2 linked regions of the Homo sapiens genome follow. The protein of the gene in region 2 purifies or fractionates together with the protein of the main gene of each other region. This does not show direct contact. Each region holds a gene or a part of one and is shown on either strand. Other genes may lie near its edges.

The links. Proteins that work in one complex are often made in the same cells at the same time.
Region 1: the proteins of CDK15 (region 2) and H3-7 purify together in Homo sapiens (affinity purification with mass spectrometry; 2 studies listed by BioGRID and IntAct, with this or other methods). This does not show direct contact.

The regions. Positions count from the first base shown.
Region 1 is NC_000001.11:143,904,871-143,907,501, reverse strand, and holds H3-7 (histone H3-7), read left to right. Parts: upstream 1-1,524; 5' UTR 1,525-1,535; coding exon 1,536-1,946; 3' UTR 1,947-1,992; downstream 1,993-2,631. UniProt on the Homo sapiens protein: Core component of nucleosome. Nucleosomes wrap and compact DNA into chromatin, limiting DNA accessibility to the cellular machineries which require DNA as a template.
Region 2 is NC_000002.12:201,893,398-201,896,074, reverse strand, and holds the end of CDK15 (cyclin-dependent kinase 15), read right to left. Parts: 3' UTR 525-2,677; downstream 1-524. UniProt on the Homo sapiens protein: Serine/threonine-protein kinase that acts like an antiapoptotic protein that counters TRAIL/TNFSF10-induced apoptosis by inducing phosphorylation of BIRC5 at 'Thr-34'.

The sequences.
Region 1 (2,631 bases), on a different chromosome or scaffold from region 2:
CTAATGAAATAGAAAGTTTCATCATTACCGTTTCATTCTTTTGCTTTAGAATATTACACAGGCTTTGTTACTTACCCAGGACAAGCCATAATTTCTCTGAGACTCAGTTTTCTTATCTGTAAAGTGAGAAGAGTAAGATCTATTTCACAGAGTAGGGATTAAATGATAAAGTGTATGTAGAAGAACTTTAAACACTGAGTAGTGCCTGCTGTCTGTAAGGCATTATTACAAAACTACCACAGAGAGGGATAACATTTGTTCACATCAGTTACACTTTTGTACATTTTAGATCTCTCGAGAGGAGGATGCTTCTGCCCATGAGAGACTCTTGAAGATATTAATTAAGCTCACAGATTTCTACTTTGTGTTTAGTGTTCAGGAAGTCCCCTTGAAATCACTTTTACTTTACTTTGACTTCAGTAGGAAGATAGTTCATAATGACACCATCAAAGTAAGTTTTAAGCGTTTCGGGCCTGCTTTTCTCAGGTTTGAGTTTTTATAGTTTGTAATGATTTTTTTAGTAAAATAAGCATATGATTAAAAGTTTTATATTAACTACTACAACTTTTAAGTATCAGTTGCTTCTACATAACCACTATATTTACTGTTCTGAACAATACATACTTCAAAGCACATGAAATTGAAAAAGCAAAGCATCTTTACTCTCTTCATAGAGAACAGAAAAAAATATTAAACTTTTAAGCATTATAAAATACTTTATTGAATAAAATGTTAGCAAGTCAGCAATTGATGAATAATTTGCTTTGAAACTTTAACTTGTAATCTGGCTAATTAGCACTAATTTACAAACTATTCTACATTGTAAAGGAGAAATGAATTTCTGGTGTTGTCCTTCTTTGATTTAGAAGCTTAACATCTGCAGGACCTAATTGGCCATTGATGTGAGGGTGAGGAAGAAGGAACCACATCGCAGGGAGAAAAGACTAAAGGAAGGCAGAGGCTCTAATATCAGGTCAATATAGGTCAGCACACTACCCACATGAAATGGCTTTGGCTGGGTTCCAAGGTCAAGTAAATAAGATCAATTTTTTCATTCCTTCAATTACATATTTTTTTGCTAAGCTTCGGTCATTCATGGTATACAATGCATCTAACTTGCTGAGCAAAATGCTAGACATGAAATAAATGTTAGCTATGGTAGAAGAGCTTCAGTAACAGGTAACCTGAAACAGGCTGATAGCTCATAGAAGGGCATGCTTGAATTCGGGGAAAAAAAAAAATCTCTGTTAAAATGGGATGCAAAACACTTTATACATTGCTTTTACAAAAGTTAGACTAATTTAAAGGAAAGTCTTCAAAAGCAATCCGTGATCGATAAAATTACAGAAAAAAATCAGGAAAGGGGGAAATAATAAGGGAAGAAAGATTAGCAGAACAATCTTCCGCCCCAGTAAAGAGGACTGAATTTTAACCAATGAGATCACAAGTTTGAAAATTTCCTTTTCAGGCCCAATCAAGAGGAGGCTATGTCTATAAATACGACTGCCTAGACCCTCTCGTATCAATGAGACAGCATGGCCCGTACTAAGCAGACTGCCCGCAAGTCGACCGGCGGCAAGGCCCCGAGGAAGCAGCTGGCTACCAAAGCGGCCCGCAAGAGCGCGCCGGCCACGGGCGGGGTGAAGAAGCCGCACCGCTACCGGCCCGGCACCGTGGCTCTGCGGGAGATCCGGCGCTATCAGAAGTCTACGGAGCTGCTGATCCGCAAGCTGCCCTTCCAGCGGCTGGTACGCGAGATCGCGCAGGAGTTTAAGACGGACCTGCGCTTCCAGAGCTCGGCCGTGATGGCGCTGCAGGAGGCCAGAGAGGCCTACCTGGTGGGGCTGTTCGAAGACACGAACCTGTGCGCCATCCATGCCAAGCGCGTGACCATCATGCCCAAGGACATCCAGTTGGTCAGCCGCATCCGCGGGGAGCGGGCCTAAGGTATATTTTTAAGTGGTCGATCTAAAGGCTCTTTTCAGAGCCACTGCCGTTTTCATCAAGAGCAGCTGTACCGGCTCTCCATCTGATGTGCGTCTGCCTTGCGCAGCGGTCAGGGGCCAGGGGCACTCGTGGTGGGTGACGTTACAGAACCCAAAGCCCAGCCGTGAGTTGGCCGGCAGTAGAGAAAGCCGCAGAGGCATGGTCCTTGTGGTTCCGGCCGAGCCTTTTCACGCTGGTTTAAGGCTAGAGGTCCGGCTCCCAATTCTGTGGGTAAAGTTTTGCATGGGGGCAAGAGACTATGGGGAGTTTCTAGATGTGGAAGATCCTGAGTGTAAGGGTGGGGCGAGTCCCTTAAAAATTATAAACTCGTTTCCTGGTTTATTTAGGAACTATAAGCTTAATTAAAGCTCAGCATCTTCCTCATTGCATACTACAGGCGGTGTCCAAGCCAGAATAGTAATTTAAGCGGGCGGGAGTAAATATCTGGCGATTTTTAAAAATGTGTGGGTGAGGTAGTATTTCAAGGAAGAGAAAAAAATTTCCACAAAGTATAGAATAAAAATGCAAAAACGAGGCAAGAGAGTTAACTTGTCTAGCTGGCGTTAAGATTTCTTCCGTATGCAAGTCTAATGGAAAGTGAAAACCAAGAAAAAAACCTCAAGCCGTTGAAACTATCGCTTCACC
Region 2 (2,677 bases):
CCGAGGGAAAGTAAAGTGAAATTTGAGTCAGATGTGGTGGTGCACACCTGTAGTCCTGACTACTTGGGAGGCTGAGGTAGGAGGATTGCTTGAGCCCAGGAGTTTGAGTCTGTAGTGTGTGATGATCACAACCTGTGAATAGTCACTGCATGCCAGCCTAGGCCACATAGTGAGACCCCGTCTCAAAAAACAGAACAAAAAAAAAAAAAAAAAAAGGAAAGAAATTTGGAGGGTCTTATACTGGCAATCAAATGAATGCTTGGCCCAGAAGTGACAGAGATCACGTCCACTCACAATTCATTAGCCAGAACTAACCACGTGGCCATATCCACCCATCAGAGAGCCAAGAAGTGCGACCCCATTATGGATGCCTGGAAGACAGAAATATTAGGAGAATAGCACTAGTGGCTAAGTAAGCATCACTAAAATAACTAGTGCCTCAAACTGAACAAAAATAAATTATGTTTTTTAAAGTCTGGTGTTGGTCTATACGGAAGAAACAACCAAAACACGGGATGAAAAAATATGCACAAATTCCAGGAATGTTTATTTGATAAAATTGAGAAATGAAAGATTTAAATGTTTTAGAGTCTTATAACATTTATTAAGCTTTTGAATAGGTAAATCCATTAAAGAAGGAAGCACAAGCATAATCATATGCATAAGGTATATGCATATGCATAAGCATAATGTTCCTCCATTATAAAGAGGATAATTCTGTCAACTTCCACTTAATAAAATCAATTTTTTAATAACAAAATTTGTCTATTCATTCCTGCAGCAATAGTATCTAAGCATAATTCCAAGTATAATCTGTACACAGCTGTTCCAAAGTCATTATTGGAGAATCTTGGAATTAGACGGGACATTGGAGGTCAGCTCTTCTAACCTCCAACATGGGAATCCCTCCTATAGCTCTCATATCTTCAGAGAGGCAGAGGAATCCCACTACTGTTGTGGGAACTCTTTGTATTGATGGACAGGTAAAACTGCTCAAGAACTCTTGCTGATGCGTCAACAGTAGCATCCCTGAGCTTTCGATTGGTACTAGCATTATCTCTGGGGGACAGCGAAATTATACTATTAATTCATATTGTACTTAAAAGTGCCAATTTCCACTAAGTCATAGCCTTTTTTAAGTTGTAGCCCAAAGTGTAAGAATTTAAGTCAGATGAAATTTGATGCAAGTAAGTGTTGTTTTGGCCTGCTGTTCATTGGCTTCTAGCAAGGTGTCTTTTGAATCATGATCCAATACTAAATAGCAGCTGCCTCTGCAAGAGTTGTGTATTCTCTAAATTCGATAGGTGTCAGGAACATTGGAGAACCAGGTCTGAGGTTTGCATCTTCACTCTGGCATGCTACTATGAAGGAGTTACCTAACTTCACTGAGCCTCAGTCTCCTCTTTTGTGAAATGGAAGTCATAAATTAATAATAATAGTACTTACTTCAAGGAGTTGTATAAAGTTGTCCATGTACTCTGATTTATTCGAGTAATTAATAAAAATATTTGACCAGAATAGGACTCAAGACTGAACCTTGTAGCACACCACGGCTGGCCTTTCTCTGGGTTAAATAAACACCATGATTTGAGTACATATATCTGCTCCATCACCCAGCCTACACTGTTTCATCTTTCAGGTATAGCTGGACAGTCTTTGTCAAATGCCTTACTAAAATCAGATACTTACTCAGGCAGGTTGATTTGGGCTACCCATGTGTCTTTTTCCTTTTTCCATCTCAGACATTGGGGGATAGTTACTATTTTTTAATTATCTCTTAATTAGTTCCTCCTTGCTCTTCCAAAGGATATACAGAGGTCTCTGGTTTCTAGGCTGCTACATTTCCTGAGATGATCCCTGGACAGAAGCGATTTGAGTTTCCCTGGCTGCTTTTAGAAGGAGTCATTGTATAAAACGGCACACGTGTTAGCTAAGACAGATCTCTCATTTTACTTGAGGGGTGTGTGTGTGTGTGTGTGTGTGTGTGTGTGTGTGTGTGTGGTGGTGCAACAGGGCTTAAATTACATCTTTGGAACTCTGCTCCCAACTACTTATTCAATATCTCCACCATCAAACCAGCGCTTAGATTCCCCATCACTGTTGCCATCATCACAGACAATTAAGATTCAGTAGGAGGAGATAGCCTGAAATTCATTTCTAATCAGCAGCCAAATCCAAACTTCTAAAATATGGGTTGGGTGGTAATACGTTCTGATAATCCAGTTTAGTGAAGGAGGAAGTGCCCCCTACAAAATAATAATAAATAGTCCTCAGGAAGTCCTTTTGTTAACAATGTTATCCAAGAAACCATCTTTTTCTAAACTTTAGGCTAGTTTTCTCCTTGCCACAGAAATCCTTTTGTTGGGAGAAATTGTAAGTGAACACAGGAGTGGCAGGTCTCTGTAAGCACCAGCTCTGTCTCCAGATTCTTTTAAATTGTCAGTCTCTTATCTGTCTTTTTGGGAAATCAACCTTCTAGCCCAGGAATCTCTTAACAAATGCCAAAATGAATGAAGTTATTCAGAAGCCCTCTTCTTAGACTTAGTTTATGTCCAGTTTTTTTAAATCAATCACTTAAATTCTATGCAAATGACAATAGCAATAACCTTCCACTGAATTTTCTTCCACTATTATGTACTATTGCCTTGAACACCATATTTAAACTATTCCAGGTCAT